Regions from separate parts of the Homo sapiens genome. Here region 1 is reported to be linked to region 2. The links are microRNA targets in miRTarBase. Many come from high-throughput screens and were not tested one by one. Region 2 holds a microRNA gene; the other region holds the end of a gene's coding sequence.

What was found. The annotated mature microRNA hsa-miR-124-3p reads UAAGGCACGCGGUGAAUGCCAA and lies in region 2 at 923-944, opposite strand. An mRNA with a match to its seed (bases 2 to 7 or 8) in the 3' UTR can be bound and repressed. Matches are read on the target gene's strand: a 7mer-m8 pairs with bases 2 to 8, a 7mer-A1 pairs with bases 2 to 7 and ends in A, and an 8mer does both.
Region 1: the mRNA of CD151 is a reported target of hsa-miR-124-3p. Seed matches in the 3' UTR shown: 7mer-m8 at 2,521-2,527.

The regions. Positions count from the first base shown.
Region 1 is chr11:836,591-840,858 of GRCh38, reverse strand. It overlaps CD151 (CD151 molecule (Raph blood group)), which reads right to left. Exons shown (of 9, transcript NM_004357.5): 5 at 4,016-4,090; 6 at 3,505-3,609; 7 at 3,241-3,399; 8 at 2,831-2,917; 9 at 2,028-2,726. The coding sequence ends at 2,667. It overlaps POLR2L (RNA polymerase II, I and III subunit L), which reads left to right. Exons shown (of 2, transcript NM_021128.5): 2 at 379-1,138. The coding sequence ends at 487. Among named protein-coding and RNA genes, the nearest start is that of POLR2L, 3.8 kb to the left of the region's middle. RefSeq lists enhancers at 1-71, 1,899-2,873 and a silencer at 797-846.
Region 2 is chr20:63,174,273-63,179,495 of GRCh38, reverse strand. MIR124-3 (microRNA 124-3) reads right to left here and starts at 996; the gene lies at 910-996. RefSeq lists a silencer at 212-501 and enhancers at 789-1,749, 4,650-5,223.

The DNA of each region.
Region 1 (4,268 bases), not on the chromosome of region 2:
AGCTACCCTGCCGTGGCCAGTGCTGGATGAGGTGGCTGCACATCAGCACCTTGGTGGTCTTGGTTTTCTAAGCTCCCCGCAATTACTTCGTTTTCATTTCATTTACATTTCTTACATACGTTATACACACACACGTACAGCCAGAGTAGGTGGGAGAGGAGGCTCCTCACGCTCCACCCAGGGTTCTGGGCATTTCCAGGTTACTCCAGCCAGGATCATACTGCTAGATCTCAGCTTCTGAGCCGGGTGAATCTGTTCGCCTTGCCGGTGGCGGGGGGGGTGAGGCCAGCAGGCAGTGAGAGGCAGGTTGGATGTGGGCTCCAGGCCTTTGCAGACCGTAGAGAACTCAGTTGGCCTCTGCTCCTCCCCTCGACACAGGGATGCGCTGGATGCCCTGGGCCTGAAGCGCTACTGCTGCCGCCGGATGCTGCTGGCCCACGTGGACCTGATCGAGAAGCTGCTCAATTATGCACCCCTGGAGAAGTGACCACGCTGGAACCCACCCACCCGCTGTGCTGACCATGGGCCCTGAGCGTCCTGCCCCGAATTCACGAGGCTGAGGCATCCGGGAGCTGGCGTAATGCCTGGCCGCAGTGTGTGTGTATCCGATACCCCACTCTGGAAGGAACCATCCAGTAAAGGTCTTTCAGAACCACTAAGGTCCCAGCCCTCACTAGGATGTCAGGAGCCAGGTCTAGGCCCAGCTTTCACACTGTGGCAGCCCAGTGAAGCAGACTGGGCCATGAACTCTCCTAGCCCTGGGGCCAGCCTGTTCCACAGGCACCCCTGCAGGAGGCGCTGCCAGGAGAGCCTTCCATCTCGGGGCTCTTTGAGGTTCCCTCCTTCTGGGTGTTCTTCAGGCTGAGCAGAGAGGCTCCTGTACCCTCTCTCTCGGAATCTGAAGAGCCAGATTTAGGCCGGGCAAAGGGGCTCACCCCTATAATCCCAGGACTTTGGGAGGCCAAGGCAGGAGGATCACTTGAGTCCAGAAATTCAAGACCCGCCTGGGCATCATAATGAGACCCCATCTCTACAACAAAATTTAATAAATTAGCTGGGCACAGTGTTCACACCTGTAGTCCCGGCCACTCGGGGCTGAGGCAGGAGGATCACTGGAACCTGGGAGGTTGCCACTGCAGTGAACTGTGTTTGCACCACTGCACTCCAGCCTGGGCAACAGAGTAAGACTCTGTCTCAACACAACTATGAAAAAGAAGAGAGAAACAGATTTTCTGGGGCCCAGTCTCTGCTGTGGTCAGGGCTGCCAGTACCTGCTGGCCTCTGCCCACTGCTGCCTGTCCCTGAGCGTCCCACCCAAGCCCAGCAGGGAGGGCAGGCCTTAAGACGCTCCTAGCTGGGTTGGGAGGTGGCCCTAAGGAGGCCCTGCTGTCCAGGCAGTGCTGCCAGCAAGCACCCCAGGTCAGATGTCCCTGCTGCCCAGATATCTGGCGTGGTGTCCTCTGGTAGGGGAGAACGGGTCTGCCTGAGGGTCTACAGTTCTGAGCCTTAAGGACAGGAACCTGGGCAGTGGGGGGCACAATCAGTGACCGAGCCCTGGCTCCCATCTCCAGGGTACCTCTGCCAGACACCAGGCTCTGGTACCTCCTACCCTCTGGCCCCCAGCAGGGCCTATAGGCTCCTCCATGTAAACCCCCTCACCCTACTGCCCCCACCCCACCTGCCTGACACCTCTTACCTGGGCACGGCCCCCAGTCTGCACCCTTCCCACGTCTGCTCCCCACCATGGCCAGAAGGGTTTTGGAAACCATTTTTCCTCTCCCCCAGGGGCTCTGAACACACCATCTCACCATTTAGGAACATGTTCAGTTCTTTCTGCTGAGGCCTGTGCTCAGCTGTCCCTGGCATCAGACCTCCCTTCCCTGGAGCCCCATGGGGGGTGTGTCCTCCTGGCTCTGCCCTTCTTTGTCCTGACACTGGGCGGGGCGGGGGTGGGTCTGTCTGCCCTGCTGGATGCGAGGGCCCTGAGAACAGACCACCATCTGTTACCAGCACAGCGAGCTCGTCCATCTGCTCTACAAGTGTTTATTGAGCACCTGTATGTGGCAGGGATGGTTGTAGGCATCTGGGTACAGCAGTGAACAAAACCAGGAAGGCCCTGCCCCGCAGAGGCACATGAACAGGGCAGTGCACAGTGACCACGTGGCATTTCGGGTGGTGGTGACTGCGGTGGGGAAGACAGCAGGGGCGCTGTCGAGGGAGACGAGGGCTGGGTTGGGAGGGGCAGAGGCCCAGGCCCAAGGGTCAGAGCTCACCTGGCTTCCCCAACTGGGATGGGGCCATGTGGCTGCAAGGCAAGGCCCCAGTTCCTGAAGGGCCTGGGGTGTGAAGGGTTTCTCCCCCTGCTGGGAACGCTCGGCCTTGCGCCACTCAGCAAGGCCCCTTCCAACCTGCATCTGACCACCAGGCAGAGAGTGTGTCTGGGGAGCCCCACAAAACACCCCCCAAACTTCGCCCCGCCAGCCCCCCTCACCTCCCCTGCTGGGCATTGGTGCGCAGCAAAAGGCACTTGAAGCTGCCTCTGAGGTTGGGGTCCCCAGAGGTTATGGTGATGGCACAGGGTGGGTGTCATCAGGGAGCCCAGCCCCTGGTACTCAGTGGTCTCAGCTCAGTAGTTGGGTGCAGCAGCAGCAAGGCCCAAGGCAGGGTCAGTAGTGCTCCAGCTTGAGACTCCTGTACAGGCAGCACGTGAAGATCATGCCAAAGACCTGTGTGCAGAGCCGGGTGGGCGTAAGCAGACGTCATGGGGCCACCAGCCACCGCCCTGCCCCGTGTCCCCAACAAGATGACCGCCACCCCCATGTGCCCTCACCTGCACACAGGCAATGCCGATCCCCACAGCCCCAATGACCCTCAGGTGCTCCTGGATGAAGGTCTCCAACTTGGTGATGCAGCCGCCCTGCGGGGCGCGGATGGGTGTTGAAGGCGGGCCCAGGGGGCACCTCCCACTGGCCCCTACTGCCTCCAGCCTCCAGGGTGTGGCCAAACCCACCCCTAGCACCTAGGCAGCCAGGCCACCAACAGCTCAGCCAGCCACTGGGCTGCCCACCCACTTCCTCGTAGATATTGGAGGTGTGGTCTCACTGCCCACATCCGGCCACTGGGGTGACCCCCCACCTCCTGGTAGATATTGGAGGCGTGTCCCACTGCCCACAGCCAGTCACTGGGGTGCCCCCCCACCACCTCGTAGACACTGGAGGCATGATCCCGCTGCACACCCACCTCCACCTTGTAGATGTTGGAGGCATGGTCTCGCTGCCCACAAAGAGCCACCACCGTCTTGCAGCAGCTGTCTGGGACCACACGGCCACCGGCCTCCTGTGAGCGGATCCACTCACTGTCTCGCCAGTCCTGTGAGTTGTTGCTGCCACAGCAGTGGAACTGCATCAAGAACAAGGCTGGGGTTGAGACCTGGGGCCAGAGGCTCCTGCAGAGGTCCAGGGAGGCCCTGGGGATGCACGCGCCCTCCCAGCACCACCCACCCACCTCCTGCTGCAGCTGGTCCACAGCGCTGGTCACAGCCTCATGGCCCGGCTGGTGGTAGCGCTTGGTCATGGTGTCCTTCAGGTTCTCCTTGAGCTCCGTGTTCAGCTGGGGTTGGGGTGCAGGAAACTTCAGCCTCAGTCTAAGACCTTCCAAGGTGGGGCTGGCAGAGCCCCAGGATGGCCGGTGGGGAGGCCCGGGGCCCAGCTCAGAGCCACAGGGAAGGGCTGAGGTCACACCTCGGCATGAGGGGAGGTTGGGTGGTGCCAGGACCGTCACCAGGGTGACAATGAAGTGCGGCAGAGGCAGAGAGAGCTTCTGGATCCCCTGGACACCTGCCTGACCCCATGTGCCCCTGCAGAGACCTAGACCCCATCTCCAGGGCCCAGTGGCACATTGGTTAGCTCTGGGACCATGGGGGTGGGGGTTGGGGCTAGCCACGCGTGTGCATGTGTGTGTGTCCGCCCCGCCTGTGCATGTCTGTGTCTCTGAATGGCCTGCCCAGGCCCCTCACCTGCTGGTAGTAGGCGTAGGCGAGGATACCAGCGATGATCTCCAGCAGAAAGATGATGAGGAGCAGGATGAAGTACTGGGGGGGGCAGCACAAGGGCACCCTTGTTCTGAGGCCTAGTGCCTAGACCTAGTGCACCTCAGAGCAGAGTCCCCACCCCGGCTCCCCAGGCTCCAGGTGGGGGCTGAGGGGCGGCCACCCTCCCTGAAGCTTTCTTGCGGAGCTGGTGTCTTCCCTCAGCTGGTCCAGCAGGAAC
Region 2 (5,223 bases):
GGGGAGGCGGCGCAGAGGCGGTGCCGGGCGTCAGCAGGTGGCGCTGGCTTCCGGGGACAGAAAAAAAACCCCTGCAGCAAACCCGAGTGGGTGTCACTGCGGCTGCAGATGGCGGCGGGGGAGGGATTTGTCATTTTCTCCCTGGGCTGCGGAGTCTCACGTGCCTGGTCCTGCACAGCCCAGAGCCGGCTTTGGGGGCGGGATGCGGTCCGGCGTGTCCACCGCCCTCGTTTGGACCCTGGACGCGGACGCAGACCCCCGTCCCCATGCAAGCCTGGTCCTGGGCTGCGGGGGCTGCTCTGGGGCCACAGCGAGCGCCGCCTCCGCCCCGCCCCGCGGCGCAGCGGCCCGAGGAAGGGCAGACTTAGCGGTGACCTCAGACCCTGCCCCACCTCCTCCCACGTTGCCGTGGCAACTGTCCAGGGCGCCCGCTGTGGGGGCGAGGGCCGCACTTGGCCGCCCTCCCGTCCCGCGGGGGCCGCCCCGCCGCCAGCACCGCGGACAGCGCCGCACCCTAGCCCGCCGCCCCACGCACCCGCCCGCCGCTCCCCGTGGACCCTCCCTTTGTCTCCCGGGCCCCGCCGCCCTCTGCGGGCGCCTGGGCGCTCCGCGCTGCGGACACACGTGGCCGGGGGCCGGCTGGCCGCAGCCTGGCCCCGGCCGCAGGCTCCCCCCTCGGCCGCCCTCGGCCGCCCCCACCCGCCCCGCGACGCCAGAGGCGTGCGGGCCCCTTTGTGTCCCGCGGCCAGATCCCCGGCCCGGCAGCTGGGCCGCACTCTGGGCGGGCGCATTGTTCGCCGGATTTGTCCGCGGCGCGAATGGCCGCCGGGGGCCGGGCTCGCCTTCCTCCCGCGGGAGGGGCGCTGGGCCGGACGGGCTCGCGGGCCATTTCCATGAGAAAGGAGCGGCGGAGGCGCCTCTCTTGGCATTCACCGCGTGCCTTAATTGTATAGACATTAAATCAAGGTCCGCTGTGAACACGCAGAGGGGCCCTCAGGGCTGGGGCGGGCGGCGAGCGTCGGGGCCAGGGTCGGGACCGGCTCGGGCTTGCGTGGGGTCCTCGCCCGAGGGGCGCGAACGCTCAGGCGTCTTCGCCGCGTGGCGGGCAGGGCGGGGGCGCTGCGCTCAGCCGACTGTGCTGTCCCAGTCCGCCCCCGACTCGGAGGAGCCCACACTTCTCCCCTTTCCGCGGCAGAGAGTGGGCCCCCAAGTGCGTCCCTCCGGGCGTTCCTGGAGCTGGGGCGCCCGGGAATCGCGAAGACGGATTCCGGGGGTGGGGGTGGTGAGCGCGTGCGCACCCGGCCGCCTCCCGCGGGGCTCCGAGGGGCGCAGAACCGCTCCGACTGGGCGGCGCGAGCTCCTCCGCAGCTGCCTTCCCCTGCCGTCGCCCTGCCCGTGCCGACCCAGGAGCGCGCACCGAATGCGGTTAAAAGAACGAATCTCGATGCTCAAAGATGAAAACTCGTCTCTTTTTACAACCCAGCGAGCTCGTCCTCTCCGCGCGCAGCGGGCCCGCGAGAAGGCGCTCGAGCTGTTCGTGGAGAGAAAGACGGGGAGACCCAGAGAGGCCGCTTGCCCGGCTCGCCCCGGCCCGGCCCCGAGCGTAATTACCAGTCCCGGCGGGAGCCGCTGCTGCCGCCTCCGCTCCCTGCGCCTCCCGCGCCGCCGCCAGTTCCCGCCTGCTCTTCGGCTCCCGGGGGCCCCGCGCGCTGCTGCCCTGGGCGGAGAAGGGCGCGGGAACCCCGAGAAGGGAGCCAGGCAAGTCCCCGAGCGCCGCAGGCCGGCTGCGAGCCGAGTGTCCACGGGGTCCACGCTGCAGGCGCCCAGCTCCTGCTAGCCCGGCCCGGCCCCGATGCAACTGTCCCCGCGCCCGCCGCCGCCGCCGCCGTCGCCGTTGCCTCCGCGCGTATCCGCGCTCCGCTCCGGCACCGGCCGATTATCACTGGGGCGCGCGGTGACGTCACCCGGACACCGGCCCCGCCGCTGCCTCCCCGAGGTGTCCTTGAGAACTGCGGGGCACGCGCGCCGCGCACACGCGCACACACGCACTGCGCGCCTCGTGCCTCCCGCGCATTCGCACCGCGTCCCGCCCCGCGCGCTCCTCGGCTCACGCGGACTCAGCCATCGAGCGCCCTCGACCGTGCCCTGCGCCCGGCGGCCACACGGAGACCCAAGGAAACGCCTGTCTCCCACACACTCCAGCCCCTCACATGGCCCTCCTGCACCCACGCGCGCAGCCCCTCCAGCTGCACATTGACACCTCTAGCCACACCCCGCCACGCGCACGCCTCGCCACGCGCACGCCTCGCCGGCACGCAGCCCAGCGGCACCCGCAGACACGCACCCGCACTCGGGCCCTGACCGCGGGTTCGCGTCTCCTGTCTGGCGCCTGCAGAACGCACTCTGCCGCGCAGCTCACACCGCGGTCCTCCAAGCCTCTCAGTCCTGAGAAAGGCAAGGGTCCCGCCGGCCTCCTGCGGATGGCCCTGCTGGGCTCCGTACAGTGGGGTGGGAATTAAAGGTCGTCCTTCCCCGCCCCCATCGGAGCTTGCGGTTCTCACAGTTTCAGACCGGGATGGGAGCTCTTGCCCGTAGGGACCACGGAATCACAGGCGACACTCCACGGCCCGACTGCAGTCACTGCCAGCTCGATAGGGTCCTTGGGGCGCCCCCGATCTGGCCCTCTAGGGCCAGGGATCAGTGGCTTCCCCAAGCCTCACCGTCCGGAGCCTCCCCCGCTGGCCTTTGTTTAGACTGCAAGGAGCGCAGGCCGGCGCGGCCGGCAGGCCTCTGTCCCCATCTCCTTCCTCCTAGGGCCAACCCAGCCCCTGCGCCATCTGCCCTCGGAGCAGAGCCTGGGCCTCCCTGGGAGCAGGTCCTGCTTCCTTCCTTTTCCACCCTCTCCAGCACTGCCCAGCCCATGGACAGCCGGTTAGGAAGGGCGGCAGGAACTCGGGTTGGTTCTGCCCGCACCGACTCCGCCGGTCCTCAACCATCAGGACGCCCCTCCCCCTTTGGTGCGGCTTCAACCTGACCCTTCCCAGCCGCAATTCCTCGCCCTTCGCAAGTGTCAGGGACAATCTTTCTTTCTCACAGGTCACGCACAAGCCCTCTACTCCTCCACAGCCCAAGGGGAACCTTCTGTTCCAAGCGCAAAGCTCTGGAAGCTGCCCCAAGCCTGCGGGTGCCGGCAGCCTCAGCAGGTGCAAGCCGGACGCTGGAGGGGCTGGAGGGCTGGGGAGGCCAGGCTGCAGCAGCCCCGCTTCATTGGAGACAGTTGCCCTTGGCCTCCAGTGGTCGGAATCGGACCCTCACCCTAATGAAACGGGGGCAGTCCCCAGGGCGGTCCTAGGCTCCCAGTCTGAGGCATCCGCTGTCCATGGTGTTGAAACGGAACCCTGAAACCTCCGCCTCACTTTCGGACTTTATACCCCCAGCCCTCTTCTCACCAAGGGTTGGGGCCAGGGAGGCCGGCTCCCGGCCCCCTCCCCTCCCGTCCCCCACCCTTAGCTTCCTGGACGGGTCCAGGACGCCTCGGGATTCCAGCTCCTTGGAGCTTGTTCCCATTCTAAGGGGAAAGACTCCTTAGCACCCCCCATCGGTACCTTGGCTTCGGGGACCCCAAATCTTTCTTTGGGTCTCTTTTCCGTACAGGACCGGCTCCACCTGGGGCAGGGTGGATCGCCGCCCCTGGCAGACCTGTTCCCTCACCTGGCGGAGCACCTTCGTCCTTCCCACTTTACCTTTGGCGGAGGGCTCTCTGGCAGGCCGGGGTGGGTAAGGTGGAAGGCTGGGGGTCGCCCCCTTCCCTTGGGTCACCCTAGATTTTTGTACATCCCTAGAAGAACCCGGCCCCTCTTGGAGTCCTGAGTAGCGATCGGGGTCCCCGGCTCCCCACTTCCACCCCCGGTGTGCAGCGGCCCCCAGCCAGGCGGGCTGGGGGAAGGGCCGTCCAGGGCTTGGGGGCGGAGCCGGCCGGTAGGAGCCGCGCGGGAAGGGGAGCCCGCCTGCAGCCTCTGCCCCGCCCGCCCCGCAGAGTCCGCTCCGGTGGGGACCTTTTCGGTGGCCCCGCGAGCTTCGTAGGTTTCATAAAAGTCAACTTACTGCTGCCGGGCCCGGGCTGGGGTCTGTGCTTCCCCCGCTCCGCGGGGGCCTAGTCTCGCCTTGCCCGGCGCCTTCTCTCCGCCGCCGCCCACGCCGCCGCCTCTCCGGAGCACACGGATAATTTGTTTGTGGATTTGTTTATTTGCCAGCTCCGGGGACAGTGGGGGAGTGAAAAGGGGCGCGAAGGTGGGGGCGGCGGCGCTGCCGGGCCAGCTCGGGCTCCCGGTTCCCGGCGGCCGCCTCGGTGCGCACAAAGGCCGGCGCGCAGCGGGGCCGGCAACTTCGCTACGGGTCAGGTGGCTCCGGCGGGGGCGGGAGCGGGAGGAGGGGAGGAAACACGGGCCGAGACCCCCACCCCCTCCCCCTCCCTCTTGTCCGCCATCCGTGAAAGCCTCCGAATAGCGTGGGATTAAACAAATCAACAGAACCCGTGGAGAACCCCTCCCTTTCCGCTCCTTCTCCCTCGTCACCACCCGCTCCTCCTCTGCGGGAGGCCTGTCATTCCTCCAGAAAGAGGAAAGGCCGCGGCCCACATCTGGGAACAGCTGGCTCACCACCTCTTGACCCTTGACCCTCGCCTCCTTTGGAGTCTGCTGCAGACCACCCCCCACCCAGCCCCTGCAGCATGCGGAGGTGGGGAGGATGTGGAAGGCCAGATGGAGGTGCCCACAGTACAGATGTGGGTGGCAGAGGGGGTGGGGACCCTTGCCTCCCAGTGGCCCACAGCTTCCCAGTTCCAGCTGGGGTGGTCAAAGGAGCTCAGAGGCCCCCACCCAGTGCCTCACCCAGGGATGGCGGAGACTTCTGTCTGGCTCTGCAGCAAGGCCTGGGTCCCCCTCCCACCCAGCATCTGTGACTGTGACCCCAAACATCTCCCCTGTGGGTAAGGGGGCCTCCCATTCCTCCCACGCCAGGCTTAACCTCCAGAGGTGGGCAGATGCTTGGTGCCATGAGGAGCAGGGGCCCCCGAAGGCCCATCCCACCTAGCAGGGGCCCTCTTCCACCCCCAGGAGCTCCAGGGACACTGCCAGGCAGCTTGATCCCCAGGACTAGGGGGTGGGAGTGCAAACATGGCAACTGGCCCCACGCACAAACTCAGAGGCAAGGTGCAGGGAGCAG